Linked DNA regions of Homo sapiens: region 2 is linked to region 1. Evidence: fine-mapped expression QTL. A gene starts in region 1. The other region holds a variant in brackets. All regions are shown on one strand. Distances are between the middles of the regions.

Evidence for each region. PIP is the estimated chance that this variant, and not a neighbour inherited with it, causes the effect.
Region 2: its variant is fine-mapped to the expression of CFAP61-AS1 in prefrontal cortex (CommonMind, PIP 0.95).

What each region holds. Positions count from the first base shown.
Region 1 is chr20:20,264,607-20,269,979 of GRCh38, reverse strand. It overlaps CFAP61-AS1 (CFAP61 antisense RNA 1), which reads left to right and starts at 2,143. Exons shown (of 4, transcript NR_183979.1): 1 at 2,143-2,486. All of the region lies in intron 21 of CFAP61 (cilia and flagella associated protein 61), which reads right to left. RefSeq lists an enhancer at 2,414-2,914.
Region 2 is chr20:20,364,947-20,370,319 of GRCh38, reverse strand. INSM1 (INSM transcriptional repressor 1) reads right to left here and starts at 2,216. Exons shown (of 1, transcript NM_002196.3): 1 at 1-2,216. The coding sequence starts at 2,052. The coding sequence ends at 520. RefSeq lists an enhancer at 2,353-3,123. The variant G/A (reference allele first, on the strand shown) is at 2,002.

The DNA.
Region 1 (5,373 bases):
CTGTGAGACAGGGTTTATCATTTTATCCAGAAAATAAGGTACAGAGAGGTTAAATCTTGAGCTCAAGGTCAGGTCACATGGCAAGCAGGTGGGTCACCAGGACTCAAACCCTGTGAGTCTATTTCAAAATCAGGTCTCATAGCACTGCAGTACACTTGCAGATGGATATGTAACACGTTACTAAAATATACTCCAACTGGCATTTTATATGGGTAAATATCTTCAGCAAATAACTAGATAATGAAATATTTTTAAGTAGCAATCACAGATTATTAATAAATTGTGAAATAAACACTCATTAAAAAACAGGCCAGGAGTGGTGGCTCATGCCTGTAATCCCAGCACTTCGGGAGGCGAAGGCGGGAGGATCACTTGAGGTTAGGAGTTTGAGTCCAGCCTGGCCAACATGGTGAAACCCCATCTCTACTAAAAATACAAAAATTAGCCGGGTATGGTGGTGCATGCCTGTAATCTGAGCTTCTCAGGAGGCTGAGGCAGGAGAATCACTTGAGCCTGAGAGGCAGAGGTTGCAGTGAGCCTAGATTGCACCACTGCACTCCAGCCTGGATGGCAGAGCAAGATTCTGTCTATATATGTGTGTGTATATATATATATGTACACATATACATATATGTGTATGTTACATTTTATAGTTTATATATTTTAAATTATGTCTATGCATATTTACCTATTCTTTTGTATTTTAATGAAATATATATGTATATATGCACATATACGTGTATATATATACATATATGTATATATGTGTATATATACATATATGTATATATGTGTGTGTATATACATATATGTATGTGTGTGTGTGTGTGTGTATATATATATATATATATATATATATATAGCCCACGAATAGAACCAGACAATGCGCTTTTTACTTTTTAGAAGCCAAAGCATAAGATTTCTATGCCCAAAACGTGACCTGTCCCGTTCTGCTCTGCTGAATAAAAAGGGAAGAATATATTAGATATAACATAACAAAGCCTCTGTTCGATGATGCATGCAGTGGAATTTTAATGTTATACTTTTCCTACAAACATGCTTTTAATAAGGCAGTAAACTGTATTTAGCTAAAGATGAAAATAATTGATCCATTTTGAGCCATTAAGGTAGTTTATTTTTTTTACTTTACTTTCATCCTACTTTTCATTTTCATGGAAAGTACAGAGGTAATAGCAGATGAATTTCAATTAGTTTCAATTAGTGCCATAAATTGTTATAATGTATCGGGTTGCTGGGTTCTATCAGAAACCCCCCAGCAGAACACTCCAGGTTTTGTTTGCAGTTGAAAGCAGCATTTGAGCCTGTGATGTCAGCTCTTCTCCATGGCACTAGAGCAGTTCTAATAGTTTAGGGTAATTTACTTCTATAAATCCATCCAACTCTAGAGCCCGGAAAACCATGTCCTCTGGATGGACTAATTCCATCACAGAACCACTGTGTTCTCCTTTGGAAGCAGAAGATGTGAAATACAACAGTGACTGTGGGAAGGAGCTACTCTCTGGGGTGGTATCTGTGTGCGTCTGCAATGGGTAGAAGTTCAAAGGAGAGCCGACTTCCTCCTGGGAGTATCTCTTGTTCTTGATGCCCAATATCCACTGTTCTAGAACAATCCATCCACCATTCTCCCCTCACATCCCTGGGCTTCAGTAACATCAGCACTGGTGTTTGTTAGGATTCAGGGTGTGGTTCCCGGAGGGACATGTCACCCAACCACAGCCAGTGGGACACGATGAAACTATTTTTCACTGTCCTTGGCTCCCTTGCCCCAACTCACATGCTAAAGTATTTAAAAAAGGGGAAATTAGCACTGAGGGAGTAAAAATAAACTATGATGAAAACTGTCCACATTCCTCCTGGTGTTATTAGGGTGACATGAAGAAAAAGCAAGGACTGAAATGTCCAGGACGGTCACGGATGGCTCCATGCGACTTTTCAAACGTGCATAAGCACAGCCCTGCTCCTTGCTTTCCATCATGTGCCAGACTTCTAGCTTCTGGCTTCAAATGCCAATGAGACAGGCAGGTGGGAGGGAGTCCCTAGAAAAACTCCAACCAGCCTGCACATTGGGGTGGAGCCTCCGGAAATGCATGCCATCTGCAGTGGGGAGGAGCCTGGCCCCTCCTCTTCCTGTGTGGAACCTGGGAATCAAGTAGCCGGCTTGCCTTGCGGAGGATCCTGCTTCCCCCTCCTCCACCCCATTTTTTTCCTTTCACCCAGTAAAACCCTGTTTAACTCACCCTTCAAACCGTCTGCGAGGCTACGTTTTCGTGGCCACGGGACGGACAAGGACCCCATCTTTAGCTGAACTACGGAAAAGCCCTGCAACACCACCATCTCATCGCTGACTTGGAAATAAGCTAGCAGTGGCTGTGTCAGCAAGACCACCACATGCAGCAAGGGTGGCCACTTCCAGCTAGCTCCTGCATCCACAGCTGCCTCGCCCCTATTGGCTACTGCCATCCATGGTAAGCCATTCTCCCGTGGTCACCTTCTCTCTGCTGGCATGGGTACTACAGATGGAAAGGCCATTTTCCCAAAGTGCTATGTGTGTACAGCGGCACCCGCCTGGTCAGCTCCCATCCCTAAAAGGTAACCAGTTAAACTTGGACGTGGCTGGGTGCTTGCGGCCCGCCAGTGTCTGTCCCTGCCCATGCCTCTGGCTTCATCTCCTGCTGCTGCCCTTCACAGACTCTGCCCAGCCCACGTTGTTGGCCCAGTGTCTTTTGGACACAATCCAAACTCCCCCAGCCTCTCTCTCTTCTTATCCTGTCCCTCTTCAAGACTGAGCTCAAATCCTCCTTTCTCGGGGAGGCCTTCTCCAAACTTCACAGCCTCCAGGGCTCTCCTGAAGGCCACAGTGCCTCTATAGCTGACTGGCACCTGGTGTACACGGATCCCTGTCTTTAAATAGAGACTGATATCCTCAACTTCATCAGGGCCCTGGTGGCAAGGGCTGAGACTTCTACTCTAGGGTACCTTTAATTCCATCACACATAGAAGTAAGAGCAATGCTAATGGCAGCCTCTATGAAACTCTTTCTATGTATGAGAGACTGTCCTGAGTATGGCATGTAATCTCATTTATCTCTTTTCACCCTCTCAGCAACCCATGTGAGGTAGATATTATCTAGAATCTGAGACACAAAGCAGTTAAGTAACTTGCCCAGGGAAACGGCAGACCCAAGATTTGAACCCAAGTCACGTGACTCCAGAACCTGAGCTAGACTGACTTTATAAATGTCTGTTATTCGTGAGGAGGAGCTTAACTCATCCTGTGTAGCCAGCATGTTATTACTCTCATTACTAAGGATGAATTTTTAAAGAATAGCTTCAATTTCATTCAAGGGTTCTCTTGTCTTCATCTCAATTGACCATCTATTTCCAGGTAGGCCGAATGCAAAAAGTTTTGATAAAACTCACCATGTGGGAGGTAAGGAAAAGAGTTACATCCTGAACTGTCTTCACTTACATTCAGTAAAACATTTATTTTGCATTTACTATGTGCCAGGCACTATGCTGGATACAAGTGACACTGAGATAGAGTAGAGCTGAAATTATCAAAGAAATGGCTTGGAGCTTCAGCCAAGTATGGTACTGTAGATGTCTCAGAAGCAATGCTGCAACAGCTATATTCTTTTCAAAATGCAGTTCTGGAAAGATCACTAGGCTTTCTGCAGTATGAAAAGGGATTTGAAAGCCCAGCAATGAAACTCAAGTATCATATACCCAAAGTCTCAGTTAAGAAATAGAGGTCACAAGGTGACTGAAGTGATTTGGCATGAATTTGTATTTCTATATGGAATGCCCTCCCAGCTAAATGTATTTCAGCCTGCCAGAGAAGCCAATGGTTTATTTAGGAGGCTCTACCTCGAGGCCTCCTCTCACACTGGATCCTACTCTTTGCTGCATTTCCTGGGAGCCTCTGTGGGTATAATTCTGTCTGTGGTTGTTGGTTCTTGGCTCAGGTGGGGACGGGCTTTCTGTCCTAGGCCTCCTCTGCTCTGAGATTTGGACTGTGATCCAGTGATGCTGCAAGAATAATAATGGCAAGAATAAGGTCTGAATGGGACTAAAGTTATGTCTGAGTATGACCTGGATTACAGAAAAGATACAAAGAGGAGAAAGTTTTTTTAAGGCAAGATGTTAACATTTTTTCTTAACTTTTTTTACTTGAGAATTTACTTGAAAAGGGCCTCTACACAGAGTTAAATGAACTTGGCCAGGTCAGGTTTCCCTGAAGGCTCCCAGAGCTTGGTCCTAGCATTTCAGTGTTAAGAGCACCTACCTGAGAGGTGCCTGGGGGAGTCATTAAGCACCAGACCTGGAGAAAATCACCTACATGTAAGACAGGAAACTAATTTCCACATACTTCTTATCCTGGCTATTTGGTGGACAAAAGCAGGCACTCCAAATGGCTTTATGCACTGGCTGCTGGGAGTCAGTCTTAAATCTTGAAAAAACATTTCCCTTTAAGGGGGCACCACAGCATCACCATCCCTGACAACTGGGCAAGTCAGCAGAATAACACTGATGCTCTTCCTCCATCTGAGAACCAAGAGGACAATACAAAGGCACATGAAAGAGACTACAGCGCTTCTTGCTTTGGGGTTTCTAAATTCTCTGCTATCAATATTCCACCTTAAGACCTTGCAGTGCCACTTTCGAAGGCTCTTTTCTTGGTCAAATGCTCCCTAGCCCAAACAACCAAAACACACAAAGGTTCAAAGTTAAAGCACAGCACTGCAGGCTGACAGGATTGGGTGCAGTCTTAAAGATGAACTGTGCATTTTGTCTTGAACCACTGGCTTTTCTGCTTTTGGGGAACTTATGGTACATTTGGAGGTCTGGACTTCATGAAATGGTAATGATTTGTCAAAAATGTTATGGCTAAAAGCTGGTTACTACAAACTACAGCTCATGTCTGGTTTAATAAATAAATTTTATCAGAACACAAACCTGCCCATTCATTTACATATTGTCTATAGTTGCTTGCTCACTAAATGAGCAGAGTTGAAGAGTTGCAACAGAGACCATATGGCCTGCAAAGTCTAAAAGAAAAAAAATTTTTAAGATAAGGTCTTGCTCTGTCACCCAGGCTGGAGTGCAGTGGCATAATCATGCCTCTCTGCAGCCTTGACCTCCCAAGCTCAATTGATCCTCCCACCTCAGCCTCCCAGGTAGCTGGGACTACAGGTGTACACCACCATGCCCAGCTAATTTTTGTATTTTTTGTAGAGGTGGGGTTTTCCCGTGTTTCCCAGGCTGGTCTCAAACTCCTGGGCTCAAGTGATCCTCTCACCTTGGCCCCCCAGAGTGATATTTACTGGTATTTTACAGTAAAAATTCACCAACC
Region 2 (5,373 bases), 100 kb before region 1:
GTTCACAAGCCATAATAAAGCTAATCGTGTGGGAAGTTCAATTTACAGCCTGTGAAATATAAAGGCATTTATTCCTCAAGATTCACCCAAAACAACCCGTACGCTACATACATAGAGAGCAGAGATTGGTAGGCGAGGCGAGACCAGACCGCATTTCTAGACCATGAACACAGCGAATACTAGCAAGAAAAAAAGCTTCTCCCCGCCAAGGGGAGGCTTCCAACCACGAGACAAACGCGTACAGCTTTTCTCCCTTGTACAGAAAGAGACTGACTCCTGTTGCGCCATGGGGGAGGCGGAGGGACACAACGTAAAAGTGGGGGTTCCAAAAGGAGTCAAAAGGAGAGTATGGGGTTACCGTCACGCCACACCGAGAGAAGCGGAGACGACACTTTCACCCGGTGGGGGCGGGGGCGAGGCTCCCCCAGCGCGGACTCGGGTTCGGGGAGTGCAGGGCGCACTCTCTTTGTGGGTCTCCAAGCGAAGGCACAGTTCGGGGGCCGGGGTGGAGGGCGCGCTCTAGCAGGCCGGGCGCACGGGCACCTGCAGGAGGATCACCTGTCTGTTTTCGGATGGGTGGCACTTGTTGATGTGCCGCGTAAGGCCGGGCGAGCTGTAGAAGGTGGCCGGGCAGTACTTGCAGGGGAACACCTGGGCGGCGTGCAGCAGGCGCAGGTGGCGCTCCTGAGCGCCCTTGCTGGCGAACGACTCTCCGCACACTGGGCACAGGTGGCACTCGGCGGACGCACTCAGGCCCAGCACGCCGGCCCCCTCGCCGTCGCCGGCCGCCTCCTGGGGCGCCTTCTCGTCGGGCCCGGGGTACAAGGCCAGTAGGTCCTCGGCCGGGGGCGCTAGCGGCGCGCCCTTGGCCTGCAGCGCCTGGTGGTGCGCCAGCAGGTGCTTGCGTAGGTAGGCCTGGCGGCGGAACTTCTTGGCGCAGTGATGGCACTCGTAGAGCCCGTCCTCGGAGCCCGACTCGGACACGCCGCCGGGGCTCGGCGTGTCCCGGTCGCTGCCGCCGCCGGGTGCCTCCCGCGCCTCAGCCCTGGCTGCTGCTTCTGGCTCCGGCGCGCGGGCGGCGGCGGGCGCGGGCCGCGGTTTGTGCCAGCGGCGGTGCGAGGCCAGGTTGGCCGGGCAGCTGAAGACCTTGGCGCACTCGGGACAGCGGTACTCCACACGCACGATGCGCGAGCATTTGTGCTGCGCCAGCGCGAACGGGTCGGCGTACTCCTCCTTGCACAGCTGGCAGATGAACTCGCCCAGCGGCCGCGCCGCGCCCCCCGCGCGGCCCCGCGGCGCCTCCACCGGGCCCTCCTTGATCTTGAGCCCCAGCACGGGCGACGTGGTCACCTCGTCCTCGAAGTGCAGCTTGCGGATGGCCTTGGGCTTCTTGGCGCCCGGGGCCTTGACTGCCTTGGCGGGCGGCTCCGCGGCGGTAGGGGGCGGGGGCCGCTTTCCCGGGGGCCGCAGGGCGGCGGCAGGGGGCAGTGGGGGGCCGGGGCCCGGGCCGCGGGCCGCCTCGGCGCCAGCCGAGAACGCCGTGCCCATCTTGAGCTCGGCGGGCGCGAAGAGCAGCGGGTCGCCGCCGCAGGTGCCGCCTCCGCCAGCTCCGCTCGCGCCGCCGCCGCCGCCCCCTCCGAGCAGCGCGGCGGGCGTGGGGAAGGACTCGGCCGAGACCGGCGAGCCCAGGTTGAAGCTGCGTTCGAAGTACTTGTGCTTCTCGTGCTCGCGGCTCACGGGCCGCGTGGGACTGTAGAGCGGCGCGGGGTGCGCAGCCTCGGGGTTGCCGAAGTGCGCGGCCCGCGGGCCCTGCGGGGGTGGCTGCGGCCCAGGCGCGCAGGCAAGCGCGGCGGCGAGCGCTGCATGGGCGCGCTCCGCGGGCGGCGGCGGCGGCAGCGGCCCGGGGACCGGGCTCGGCGCCGGGGGCTCGGCGCGGGCGCCCCCGCAGCTGGGCGAGAGCAGCAGTGCGCGGTCGCCGTCCTCGCCGCCGCGGACCCGGTA[G/A]GAAACGGGCGTGGACTTCTTGCTGCGCTTCACCAGGAAGCCGCGGGGCATGTTGGCGCGGCCCGAGGGCACGGCACTGGCTCGGTCCCCCCTCCGCGCTCGGCCCCGGCGGCCCTCAGTGCCCCCGGCCCATTGCCCGGGCGCGGCGGCTGCGGGACTCGCGTGGCGCCGGCGACGGCTCGGCCCAGCTCTGCGCCCTGCACGCGCGTCCCTGTCCCCGGGCCCGGCAGCCGCTCCCTTTTAACGGGGGGAGGGGGCCATTGTTCTCGCCTCCCGCTTCCCCTGGAGCCAATCAGCGCGTCCGCAGCTCCTCAGCCTGGCAGGGTGGGAGGGCGATGGGGCGGCCAAAAGGGGGCCGGGACTCGGGGGTCGCCCGGTAGGTGCGGCAGATGTACCTGAGGGCGCGGGGCCCCCGCGCGCGCCCCTGGTCGCCCCGCCCGGCGCCGCCGCCCCGCCCGGTCCAGGCACACGCCCGGCCCCGCCTCCCTTCACGGTCTGCTGCTTCTCTATGGGGAGGCGCACGTGCCTGGGCTTTGTGTCTCTCCTCCGGGGGGCGCGGAGCCGCCAAATGGGCCCGTCCATCAGCGCGACAATGCACGCCCCCCTCCCGCGCGGGGATTACCCGCGGGTCGCTAGCAAAATAGCAACAAAGGAGAAGAATGGCCCCAAATATGTCAGGAGGGTTCAATCCGCGAGCCGGAGCCGAGGGGGAAGTTGTGCGCGCTGATTGGGTGGGGGCGGGGGCGCGCCGGGGCGGTGCGGGGGAGATCGTTGCGGAGGCGCAGTGGCTCCGCGTGGTGTTTGGGAAATAAACAAGAATCCGAGAGAGCAGCAGGGTCCGGACGGCCTCCGCCCGGACCTTGGACGGATGGGCCGCTGGACCCAAGAGGCCAAGCAAAAGGGTTCCCCGGGGTTCCAAGTGTGGACAGGGGGCCCGGCCTTCTGGCAGTGGCCGAGGGCGATGTTTGTGCTCGCAGCCTCCGCGCGCCCACGGGGCTAGAGAAGGTTTCTTTCGAGTTTGAGAAGGAATTGGCACGGCCTTCTCAGTCTCCCGAAAGCGCGGGATTGGAGCGCGGGCGGGCTGGGCTGGGTTCCCAGAGGAACGTGAATTTCTGAACTTTTGGGTTCTTGGAGGCTTGGGAATGGCATCTTTGGCGGGGCCCGACCCAGGCCGCCCGGAGCTTCCGCGTGGTCCAAGGCTCGGTTAATCCGGGTCGAGTTGGCCGAAGCCCGAAACGCGCGGTCGGCCTCGTGCGCCCCAGTGAAGTTGGCTTTCTCCTCCCCGCGCGGCCTCATGCATTTTCATTCCGAGCGGGCATTTTGTTTGCCGGTTGACATCAGATGCTAAATCAAGGGCTCCAATCAAGGCGCTGCGAAATAAAGGGGCTGCCTGTCTGGGCGCAGCCCCCACGGAGCCGTGCCCCCTTCACCTTTGTGAAGGAAATTAACCTCCTGCTATTGAGCTCCGGTCGCGGCCAATCTGGACGCAAAAGAGACGCGTGCTGGACGGGGGGAGGGGGGGCAATCTGTACTCTGAGGCAGGCTGAGGCCTCCGAGAGGACAAGCCGCCTCCCCTGTGCCACCAGGAAGAGACAACAGCGAAGATTCCCCCCGCCCCCACCCCCACCCCCACCTCCGCTGCCGTTCCGTTTGGACCCAGACTGGGCCGCCTGCCTCCATCCTCTGTCCAGCCCAGCCCCGAGGAAACACAAAAGGCAGAATCTTCGGGGGACAGGGCAGAGAACCCCACGAGTGCGTAGTGGCCCTGATCGTCCAACACTGGGGAACAAATAGCCAAGCCACATAAAATGTCATATGCTGTGAGGAAAATGTCACTTTATTGAAAGAGAAGGAAACATTTTTCTGCAAAGCTTTGTATACCAGACAGATTTTGCTGAGTTTTACTTACGCTTAATTCCACTGAAGGTATTTAATTGTTTTGGATTTTCCCTCTGAAAATACCCTGGCGTAGAAATTAAACATGTAAAAATAGAGTCCACATGAGTCATAAGTTGTGATGGGGACAGTTGTTAGGCTTAATTAATTAAGGGGTTAATCAGGTTGGTTAATCAAGGGAAAGATATTTGATAATTTTATGTTTGTAATATTTTAACTCACACACTGAAAAGGGAAGAATGCATATAGTGAAATATATTTTGAAAAGTCTCACCCTAGTTTTAAAAATGCTGTGGTGAGTGCTAGTCTCCCCAAAAGTTAGAAATCTTAAAATGAGTTTATCTAAAATTTATAAACATATTTCTATCTAAAAGTAACTGATGTTATTTCCTTGCTCTTTTGAGCTCTGATTAATAGTGCTGATGAAATTAGAAGTGGGAAAAGGATTCCGAGACAGCTTTGGCCAATTTTATTTTCTAATCACGAATCCCATCTGGATTGTAGAATAGCATAGGGCGGGGGCTCGGCCTGCCCCATTCGGTCTTGCATATGTAACACTCCTTCCATTCAACAGATAACAGAGAGTTAGTCACCTTGTGAATCCTTTAAAAATAACAACACCCATAATTGTAAATAAGCCGTGGGGATGGGAAACCGGCACCTCTACCAACAAAAAAAACAAAACAACTCCTGCGTGAGTGAATTCAAACAGGGCTCTGAATTTAGCCAAGGGAATCTATTAAACGCTACTGAGATACTGAGATTCAATGAATCCGTTTCTTTTTCTTTATTTGTGGCTTCCAGTCTTGCTAGCGTAAATGAAATCTGCTTTCAGACGGGTACAGTCAAAATAAATGGAAACTTGAAAGGTACTAGTATTGGAAACTAATTTCACCACCCGGGGCTGGAAGGAGTTAGGCTGCGCACGCGCGCACGCACACACCAGCGACCTCCAAGCAGGTGTAGCCCAGCCCGGGCCGTGGATCGCAGCCGCCTTCTGCGTGATTTTCTCAGAACCTGTGCACCCGCATGCATGGGGACATCGGGTCGAGATATTTGTCTTCGCCTGGGAAGAGCAAAGCGCCATCACAGTGCGCCCCCGACGCCGGCCTTGGCGCACGCGATTCGGAGAATGGGCCGCGTGAAGTTAAGTTGGGGGAAACAGCGCGGATTTGCCCCCCTCCAGGGGGGCTTCGCGAAAGTCAGTGAACATAAGGATCCAAGGCAGAGCACCCAAGGGGCCTTCCCCGGCTTCAGGTGACTCCTCCCCTTCCTTCGGGGTCCTGGCCAGCGCTTTGGAAAAATCCCGGGCCTCTTCACTTTCCCTTGCGGACCCCGCGGTGGGTTCTTCCTCCGACGACTGCGGAGCCCGAGGCCCCAGGCCCTCCAATTTCTCCTATCCTGGTGTGCGGGGATGCCGTCGGGGAGCGCGCCGGGGTTCACTCTGACCCTCACCACGGCTGGAAATCAAAGTCA